2 separate regions of the Homo sapiens genome follow, and region 1 is linked to region 2. Evidence: fine-mapped expression QTL. A gene starts in region 2. The other region holds a variant in brackets. All regions are shown on one strand. Distances are between the middles of the regions.

Region 1 (5,389 bases), 28 kb after region 2:
CAGCTCTGGAGGGTGCAAGCCATGAGCCTTGGCAGTTTTCAAGTGGTGTTAAATCTGCAGATGCTCAGAGTGCAAGTGTGAAGGAAGCTTGGCAGCTTCCACCTAGATTTCAGAGGATGTATAGATAAGTCTGTGTGCCCAGGCAGAAGTCTGCTGCAGGGGCAGAGCCCCCACAGAGAAACTCTACTAAGGCAATGCCAAGAAGAAATGTGGGGTTGGAACCCCCACACAGAGTCCCCACTGGGGAACTGCCTAGTGGATCTGTGGGAAGGGGCTCCTGCCCTCCAGATCCCAGAATGTTAGATCCACTGGAAGATCCATGATTATAAAAACTGGCAGGCACTCAACTCCAACCCCAGAGAGCAGCATGTGGGTTGCACCCAGAGAAGCCACAGGGGCAGGGCTGCCCAAGGCCTTGGGATCCCACTCCTCACACCAGAATATGGAACATGGAGTCAAGGATTATGTTGGATCTTTAAGATTTAATGCCTGCCCTGCTGGGTTTCAGATTTGCATGGGGCCTATTACCTCTTTCTTTTGGCCAATTTCTCTTTTTTGGAATTGAACTGTTTACCCAATTCCTGTACCTCCCTTATGTCTTGGAAGTAAATAACTTGTTTTTTATTTTACAGGCTCATAGGTAAAAGGAACTTGGCCTTGAGTCTCAGATGAGAACTTTGACTTTGAGCTTTGAGTTGATGCTAGAATGATTAATATGTTGGGGGAAGAGTAAGAAGGGATGATTGTATTTTGCAATGTGAAACGGACATGAGGTGTAGGGGGGCCAGGAGTGGAATGATATGGTTTGGATGTGTGTCCCCTCCAAATCTCATATTGAAATGTCATCCCCAATTTGGAAATGGGGCTTAGTGGGAGGTATTAGATCATGGGGATGAATCTCTCATGAATGGTTTAGTGCCACCCCCTTGGTGATGAGTGAGTACTTGCTCGGTTAGTTCACACAAGATCTGATTGTAAAGAGCACGGCCCCTCCCCACTTGCCTTTTACTCCTGCTCTCACTCTGTGATACACCAGCTCCTCCTTTGCCTTCCCCGATGATTCTAAGCTCCCTGAGGCCTCACCAGAAGCAGATGCCAGCACTATTTAAGTTCTGGGATACATGTGCAGAATGTGCAGGTTTTTTACATAGGTATAGACGTGCCGTGATGGTTTGCTGCACCTATCAACCCATCATCTAGGTTTTAAGCCCTGCATTCATTAGGTATTTGTCTTAATGCTCTCCCTCCCCTTGTCCCCCACCCCCAACAGGCCGCACGATGTGTTGTTCCCTCCCTGTGTCCATGTGTTCTCATTGTTCAACTCCCACTTACGAGTGAGAACATTCAGTGTTTGGTTTTCTGTTCTGGTGTTAGTTTGCTGAGAATGATGGCTTCCAGCTTCATCTGTGTCCCTGCAAAGGACATGATCTCATTCTTTTTTTTTTGAGATTTGAGACGGAGTTTCGCTCTGTTGCCCAGGCTGGAGTGCAGTGGCCTGATCTCAGCTCACTGCAACCTCTGCCTTCTGGGTTCAAGTGATTCTCCTGCTTCAGCTTACTGAGTAGCTGGGATTACAGGCACACACCACCACGACTGGCTAATTTTTCTATTTTTTTAGTAGAGATGGGTTTCACTATGTTGGTCAGGCTGGTCTCGAACTCCTGACCTCGTGATCTGCCCGCCTCAGCCTCCCAAAGTGCTGGGATTACAGGCGTGAGCCCCCACGCCTGGCAGATGTACCATTTTTTAATAATGAGAGTGTTTTAAACCTACTCTTAGCAATTTTGAAATATACAATGCATTACTATTAATGCTAAGCAATAAATCTCAGAAACTTATTCCTCCTGTGTAACTGAAGCTTTGTACCCACTAATCAATATCTCCCTATTCACCACACCCCAATCTCAGTCCCTGATAACTACTATTATCCTCTACTTACGTAGTTTGACTTTTTAAAATTCCACATATTAAGTGAGGTCATGCAGTGTTTGTCTTTCTATGCCTGGCTTCTTTCACTTAGCATGTCTTCCATGTTGTCACAAATGACAGAATTTCCTTTTTCATTGTGCAGGTATAACACATTTTCTTTATCCATTAATTCATTGATGGACACAGGTTGATTCCATATTTCGGCTATTGAGAATAATGCTGCAATGAAATGGAAGTGCAAATATCTCTTCTTCAGCATAATGATTTTGATACCTTTGCATATATTCCCAGAAGTGAGATTGATAGATCATATAGTAATTCTATTTTTAGTTTTTCAAGGCACCTCCATATTATTCTCCATAGTGGCTATACCTATTTACGTTCCCTCCACAGTGTTCAAGTTTTCCCTTTTCTCCAAATCTTTGACAGCTCTTGTTTAATTTATAAGAGACATTCTAACAGATGTGAGGTGATATCTCATTGTGATGTTGATTTGCATTTCTCTAATGATTAAGGATGTTCAACATTTTTTCATAAATCTGTTGGCCATTTGTATGTCTTCTTTTGATAACTATTCAAATCCTTTGCCCATTTTCAATTGGATCATTTGCTTTCTTGATATTGAGTTATTTGAGTTTGTGAATATTCTTAAAAGCTCCTGTTTTAAAACCAAAGTTATCCCATACATTTTCTAGTGTTGCCTTAACCTGGGATACAGACACAGGCAAGGTGGATAACTGTAGGAATGAGCTGCCTTTGATGCATGTTGTGAGCATGCTGAAAGGATTTGGGCCTCAGGAAGGATCAGCATGGAGCTAGAAGCCACGAATATAGTTGTTAGGGCTGTTCTCCTGTTTCCAAGGACCACAGGCCAGCCCCTTAGCACAAGGAGGAGAGCTCCTATAGAAGGCATTCTTCCAAGCTCATCTGTTCTCCTTCAGTTGGATAAGGATGTAGGCAGAGGTGTCACTTTGTGACTTTACCAGTCCCTGTCTTATGTGCAAAAGGGAGAACCATGTTGATCCTTTTTTTTTTCTATTTTTAAAGCATATTTAAGCTATTCCACCGCTGTTTTTAAAATACTTATTCTGTTAAACAATTCTTTCAGAAAAAATTTGAATATTCCCCTTCTAAAGTGCACTTGATTGGCCACAGCTTGGGAGCACACCTGGCTGGGGAAGCTG[G/GA]GTCAAGGATACCAGGCCTTGGAAGAATAACTGGTAAGCATGCCCTGCAGTTGGGCCTTGAGTGTGTTTAAATATTGTTTACACACACTACCAAGTATCTGAACACCAAGTAATACTGCAGAAGAAAATATAAGATACTACAAAATGTGATTCCAATGAAATAAAACGTGAACGTGTTTTCAGAGCAGAAATGTGCAGATTCGCTTCAAGGGGGTTCATTGCAGCGTTGTCTGTGGTGACAAAGTAAGAGAAACTATGTGTTCCCTCACCCGCAATTGAATGGTTGAAGCAATTATAACACATTCCATCCTTTGGGATTTCATACCAGTAATGCAAAGAGTGAGGTTTACCTAGACGTAGGAGTAGAATGGTGGTTATGAGAGGCTGGGAAGGGAAGAAGAGAGGGGAGGCTAAAGAGAAGTTGGTTAACAGGTACAAAAATCCATAGCTAGAAGGAGTACATTCTAGTACATGATACAGAAATTACAGTTAACAATAATTTATTACATGTTTCAAAATAGCTAGAAGAGAAGGACTGTAATGTTCCCAACACGAAGAAAAGATGAATGATTATGGCGATGGATGTCCCAATTACCCTGATTTGATCATTACACATTGTATACATGTCTCAAAATACCACATGTGCCCCCAAAATATGGACAACTATTATATATCAATTTTTAAAAGTTATTTTTAAAAAGAATGAGTTTGAATCCCACTGATTGTCCTGGACGTTCCTGACACACTTGGACTGCAGCTTACTCAGTTGTTACCATTTTTAATATTATCCCTGGATATACCGTTAAGTCTAAAAATAAGTTGCGGAGCAAAGTATATAGCATGAATTGGGTTTGGGGGTATAATAATTAATCATGTCTCCTCCCCACATTCTGTTTTCCAAACCAATTGTGTGAGATGGATGAAGGTCAAAGCAACAGCTCCTTTACCAACAGGCGGGGCTGGCCTCTCCCTCTGCATCCCCCCACCAACAGCCAGTAAGCAAGCCCCACGTCTCCTTCATCTGCCTTTTCCCTGTCCATCCTCTGGTCATTGTCCTGGCTCAGTCCCTCATCTCTTGCCTGCATTTTGGCCTTGGTCCCCGCTGGTGCCCCAGCCTAGTCTTCTACAAATACTGCCAGGCTTATCTTTCCAGGTGCAGGCCATGCCACTCCACTGCTCCAAATCTCTCAGGGTGTCTCCTTGTGTGAAGCCTCTTAGCTTGTCACGTAAACTTGTCATGTTTCATCACAGTTTTTCATGCTCTGTGCCTTTGCACGTGCTGTTGTCCCTCTTGCTGAGCATTCACTGTCCATTTGTCAAGATTCATCTCAAATGTTTCCTCCTCAGGCAGGAATTAATTCTCTGTGCTTCTCATACCCTTTGACATGTGCCTCTTTTGTGTTTGAAAACACAAATATTATATCACATGGTCTTATAATTATGGATGAGCCTGTTATTTTTAACAGAAAGCCTCCTTACTGCATTGACTCCAGGCTTGGCCACAGAAGCGTATTTTCTCTTTGTTAAACTGCTGTGCTCTGTGTGCATGTGTGTGTACGTGCTCGCTCTCTCTCTCACACACACACACATACATGCACACTTTAAATTCAAATCTCAATTTAGAACACAGTTTTTAAAAAAATACCTAGAAGTCCAAATTGGGATTATTTTGTCTCTGCAATCTGTTGATATAACAGGCTTATTCCTGCTATAAGTCATCTCTCTTCTCCTAACTCTCTGCTCCTAAATCCTCCTCACTCACCTCCACCACCACCACCACCATTCTTATTTAGAATAATAAAAACTGAACTTTTTCACTGAAGTCATTATGTGACCCTTTGTGGTCAATTTTCAAGCCCAGAAAAAAGAAGGAATGAGTTCCTCTTTTGAAGATGGAACCTCATGGGGCCTCACAGCCTCAGGCAGGCTGAGTGAAGCAGAACACATAACTGCATTTACAATTCATACTGGGTTATGATCAATTCAAAGAGATTTTGTTTTTATTAAGTTTTTTCAAAAATCAGATACTATTTAACTCTAGTTTTTCCCATCAGGTGAATTATCCTGCTGGGTAAATAGAAAACAGATTTTTAAAGGTTTTCTGAATGTCCAAAGAATTAATATTATGTGGATGTTTTAATCTATATTCCTCTGAGAAATTAGTTTTTGGGCAATCATGTTCCTTGAGTAATAGAAGAACTGAGACCTCACAAACAGATTTTAGCTGTATAATTAACCACTTAAAAACAAAATTAATATGATAAACATATTAAGGA
Region 2 (5,389 bases):
ACAAGCTCAGGGCTCCCACTGATTCTAAATTAATGCGAGTTGTAGAATTATCTCATTATATATTACAATGTAATAATAATAGAAATAAAGTATGCAATAAATGTAATGTCCTTGAATCATCCCAAAGCCATCCTCCCACCCCATCCCGTGGAAAAACTGTCTTCCATAAAACTGATCCCTGGTGCCAAAATGGTTGGGGACTGCTGTTCTAAGTGGTTCAGCTTGAAGGGTGCTTAAAGTGGGGAAGTGGTAAAAGAAGCACGTGGGGGCAGTTTGCTAAAGGCCCTGCAGGAATGCTAAGGAGTTTAGATTTTATCTCCTAGAAAAATGATCAGATCTGTGTTCTAGAAAAAACCTGTACCAACAAGCATACAAATGTATGCTCTTGGCTTTCAAGCTTACAATTTAGTTAAAGGGGGTAAAAAATAAGTAATATAATGTTTAAGTTATAAAAGATTAAAAATAAAAAAATGCAGTGAGTGTTCAGAAACTAGAGAAATCTTAACCAACTGAGGATGATCAGAAAAAATATTTATGAAAGAGATTGTTCACATTTGAACTGGGGCTTGAATTTATGACGGGGGTGTAGATATATATAGAAAAAGGCGAGGAAGGACCGTCAAAGTAGAAGAAACAGCACGCCCAACACTCAGCAGGTGGACAGGAGCAACATGGGTGAAGGGCATGGACTTTACAGCTCAGATGGTTGACCAAGGAGAAGACAAGAAAGTCCTTGATCTAAGTTAAGTAATTTGAGCTTTATTCAATAGGGACATTCGAGGAGAGTGTGATCAGAGATGTGATTCCAGATGGTTTACCTGGGAACAATATCTGTGATGCCTCATTGAGAAGAGAGAAGCCTGGGCCAGCAACGATGTTTCAGGCATAAGAGGAAGATCTGAGTGTGGATGTTGACAGTGAGTCTGACAGGAGGGAATGAATGAAGGAGACACCATTGAAGGAGGATCAACAGGGCCTGGCTCGACTCATGGAATGAGGGAGGCAGGGACTTTAAGGGTGTCAAAGATGATGTGAATGTTTCCAGCTTGTGACTCAAATAATAGCAGTTCTAATAACAGGAACAGGGAAGGCATGAAGAAGAGCTCTTTGGAGAGAAAAGCATTTCTTAAGATTTGGATATGATGACTTTATGCTTCAGATAAAGTATCTGAAAGGCCCAGAATGTATTGGCAATGCTGGGCTGGGAGTTTTGGAAAGAGAATGGATTTTGTGATGAACTTTTAAAAGCTATTGTTAACTCCTGTATGGGACATTTTTCAGGCAGAACTACAACGATTGCAGCAAGCATTTATGGATTCACTAGTATCTGACACTCATTAAATACAATTGTTAAAGTATGGGTCTTCATCTCTCAGAATGATAATCTCTCTAGGGTAAGAATTTCCTTGGATGCTATGAGATCAATGAAATCTAATGCTATCTTTTTCTTTCAACAAATATTGACCAAGTGCCTGTGATGATAGACCTATTGCTATGTGCTGGGGGCCCAGAGATGAACAAAACCCAGCTTGTCTCAGAATAGTTCGATCTGGAGGAGGAGAGTAAAATGTAAATACCTAACAATTCTATAATATCCTAAGTGTTATAAGAGAGTCATTATAAATTGCTGTAAAAACACAGAAAAGGATGTGGTTTTTAAAAATATCCTATATTATCATTGTAGGTCTTTGTACTTTTTAATTTAAAAATGCTTATTAAGTACCTACTAAGTCCCAGACATTGTGCTTGTCACTTGGGATGCAGATATAAATAACATGTAGTCTTCTGAGAGCTCCTACTGATGAATGTATTAAATGTTATTCATACTTATCTTACAGGTATGGCTGAAAACATTGATTCTTGAGGTGTTGCTTGGAAAAAAAAACAGCCAGTTGTAACTAGTGAAGCTTTCAGAGGGTGATTTTTCTATAGTGTGGGCACTCACAGCGTGTCCAGCACACTGCTTGGTGCTGTTGAATAGTTAATTCTCTAATTACTGCAGGTCTGCATGCCAGTGTGGACTGGCTGCCATGAATACCAGGAAAGGTTTCAACCAAATAAAACATCCAGGACTTGGAAGTACTCTTGTTCATAATCTCTTCTTTGTCTAATTCTTGCATAATGTAACAAAGTTTTTATGAAAAGGCTGTGCCTCATAAATGTTGGAAATTTTAATATTATAATAGTCAGAAACAAAAAGTTAGGAAAAACTAAGAAATAATGTTAGCTATTTTCTATGAGCGTTTAAAAATTGAGAAACTGACTAAGAATATCTGTAGATTGAATTGCTCATCACTTTAAGTTAACATAGTAGCCAAAATGGCAAGTTTCTATTACGTTAAAGTATATCATGAAGCCTATGTACAATCATGTAAGGTTATATTTAGCTATATGTGAACATCAATTTGCCCATACACCCATTAACATAGTTGAACAATGACAGCACCAAAAAATTAACAGGTAATATAGTACTTACTATGTCCAGGTGCTATTCAGACAATAAATAATTCAATCATCTTATTTAGCATATGAGCTAGGAACCACGATCATCCCCATTTTACAGGTAAGGAAAGGAATAGTGAGGCTTACTAGCCCAAGGTCACACTGCTAATAAGTGGCAGAGGCAGAATTTGGACCCAGCATTCGGGCTCTGAAAACAATAATGATAACTCCCATATTATACTGCCACACAGATAAGAGGAAAAGATTAGCTATGTTTGTTATTGAACTCGGAACATCTTATAGCAGGGTCTGTTTGTATTAATTGGGATGCTTACACACAGAAATGAGTTAGGGAAAAATATTCTGAAAGTGCCTAATCCTGGTTTGGAAAAAAAAAATTACCTTTTAAATGCTTATTATCTAACACCTTGTAACCTTAAAGTAACTTTCAAGAGTGACTCAGTTTGTGCTTAACCAAAATATTACTAATAATGAAACAGCAAAACCTTGGAAGTTTCCATTGCCAATCATAAGATGTAAGGCACACCCCGATAATTTTATTTACTTTGCAGAGCATAAGGTGGAATAACATGTTCTTTTAAACGTAGAGTTTAAACATTGAGTTGCATCATTGTGAGGAAAACCACTTAGTATTTTATAGTGAGGTGACTTTACAAGTAAAGATCTTCAAGAAGATTTTTATGTGATTTAAAAAATCAGCTTAGATGCTTGGAATTTGGATTGTTGCATTCTTGTTCTTTGGCACATCAAGAGGTAAGATTCATAATTTATAATAAGTTCTTTAAAAATAATGAGTATACTTACATCTAAAATGTAATTGACATGAACTTATTCTTTAGAAATTACTATTGCTAATTTCATTCTTAAGTAGTTTATTGTTTTTATGAATATGTTTAAAATATTGGCTGCTTATATTTCTTTGTATTTATTTATTTTTTCACTTAACATAAAATTATCAATGGAAAATGCATCACTTAATACTGAATGAGTCTTATGAACATAAAGAAGCATCTATTTCCAACAATATAAAAGAGTTGCCGGACAGTCTTGTGTTGGGCTGCTAGCTCTGCCACTTACTAGTCTTATGGGCTTAGACATTGAAGTCTCAATTTCTTCATTTCTAAGAAGGGTACATAGTAATAAATGAGAAAATATATACAAATTTCCAAATTCTGTAGCTGACTCATAGTAGATACTCAATAATTGAATGAATTAACTAATTATTAATGTCAGTTGGAATGTCCATTTTTTTTCCACTTCAGTCACAGTTTTCTGGAGGGCTGTTAGTCTGTGGACATTTCTTAAACATTAACTCAGTATTCATTGACATGTTTGCTCTTTATACTATGGACTCCTTAGACATTACAATGTAAGGAGTTAGTGATTTTGGCTACTTTTACCATCCATGTTTAATATTGTGCCTATAAGCAAACATTAAAATTAGTTGATTTATTTTAACCAAACTAGAATCAAATAATTTTAATGTTGAAAGAGATCAACCCCTTTGTTGTAAAGTATCACGTAGTTGGTTGAGATAGTATGGTGGTAAGAAGACAGTCGTCACATCTAACATTCAGTTCAACCACCGGTTTGAATTCTGAATCTTCTTGGGTTTTAGTCCTCGTTCTGCTGCTTGGTAGTTGCTTAACTTTAAACAAGTACTTAACCTTTCTAAGCCCAGATGATTGATCTGTAGAAACAGGACAGTAACCAAAATAAAATTATAGGGTTGTGCCAATTAAATAAGATGCAAGTTGACCATCTCGAATCCAAAAATCTAAAATCTAAACTTCTCCAAAATCTGAAACATTTTAAGCACTAACATGATGCCACAAGCAGAATATTTCACATACAAATACTTAAAACAAACTTTGTTTCATGCATAAAATTATTAAAATACTGTATAAAATTACCTTTAGCCTATGTGTATAAGGTATATATGAAACATAAATGAATTTTGTGTTAAGACTTGGACCCTGTCCCCAAGATATCTTATTGTGTATATGCAAACATTCCAAAACACAAAATCTGAAACACTTCTGGTCCCAAGCGTTTTGGATAAGGGATACTCAATCTGCAATTCATGTAAAATGCTTGGCATGGGATTTGGGACATATTAGTAGTGAGCAATCAATAAATGTTCGCTCTTATTTACACAGATGAAGAAAACAAAACACAGAGAGATTCGTTGTGTAACATCTTGGCGCTAGCTTGTGGAATTGGCCAATCTTGACTTTCAGTTCAGTGTTTTTCAGTCCCTGGCCTCCAGCTCTTCTCTATTGGATAAAAAATGAAGGAGATAGGACTATCATTAGTTTTCATATTTCAAGAACTATATTCTATTTTGCATGATTCTCCTGCCCCAGGACAGTCCTAATTGAGTGCTGAAAGCAGTTAGACTGGTGAAGGCAGAATTAAGAAATAGGCAGTTTGCCCTGATCTGCTGAGATGATATTTAAAGCCATGACTACAGACAGGATCATCAAGGGAGTGACTGCAGGTAGAGAAGGAAGATGGAACTACTGAGTCCTAGGACACTTCCTCATTAAGAAATCAGGAAGATGAAGGCAAACTAGCAAACAAGACTGCCAAGAAGTACTCAGTGAAGTGGTAGGAAACCTAGGAGAGTCAGCATCCTAGAAGTCAATTTAAGATGAAAGAAATAACAGCATGTTTGTGTGAGGCTAGGAATGATCCAGCAGAGAGGAGGAAAGTTGGTAAAGCAGGAGAAAGAGAAGGGAGTAATGTTGTGCCTTACCCCTCAGTAGGTGAGAGAAGATGGAGTCTTAATAGGATGAAGGTTTGCCTTTGCGAGAAACAAAGACAGTTCATCTCTTGTGAACAGAGTGAAGGCAAAATAGAAGGGCAGATATCTGCAGGTAGCTGGATAGACACGCTGGGAGCTTGTAAAAGGTCTCTTCTCTTT

Which allele goes with the higher level. Alleles are on the strand shown, and positions count from the first base shown. SD is a standard deviation of normalised expression in the study named.
With allele G in place of GA in region 1, the expression in sun-exposed skin of the gene that starts at base 3,002 in region 2 is higher (moderate effect, 0.41 SD a copy in GTEx).

The links.
Region 1: its variant is fine-mapped to the expression of PNLIPRP3 in sun-exposed skin (GTEx, PIP above 0.99).

The regions. Positions count from the first base shown.
Region 1 is chr10:116,452,685-116,458,073 of GRCh38, forward strand. PNLIPRP3 (pancreatic lipase related protein 3) reads left to right here. Exons shown (of 12, transcript NM_001011709.3): 5 at 3,038-3,146. Among named protein-coding and RNA genes, the nearest start is that of PNLIPRP3, 28 kb to the left of the region's middle. RefSeq lists an enhancer at 1-220. The variant G/GA (reference allele first, on the strand shown) is at 3,114.
Region 2 is chr10:116,424,846-116,430,234 of GRCh38, forward strand. It overlaps PNLIPRP3 (pancreatic lipase related protein 3), which reads left to right and starts at 3,002. Exons shown (of 12, transcript NM_001011709.3): 1 at 3,002-3,216. The coding sequence starts at 3,168.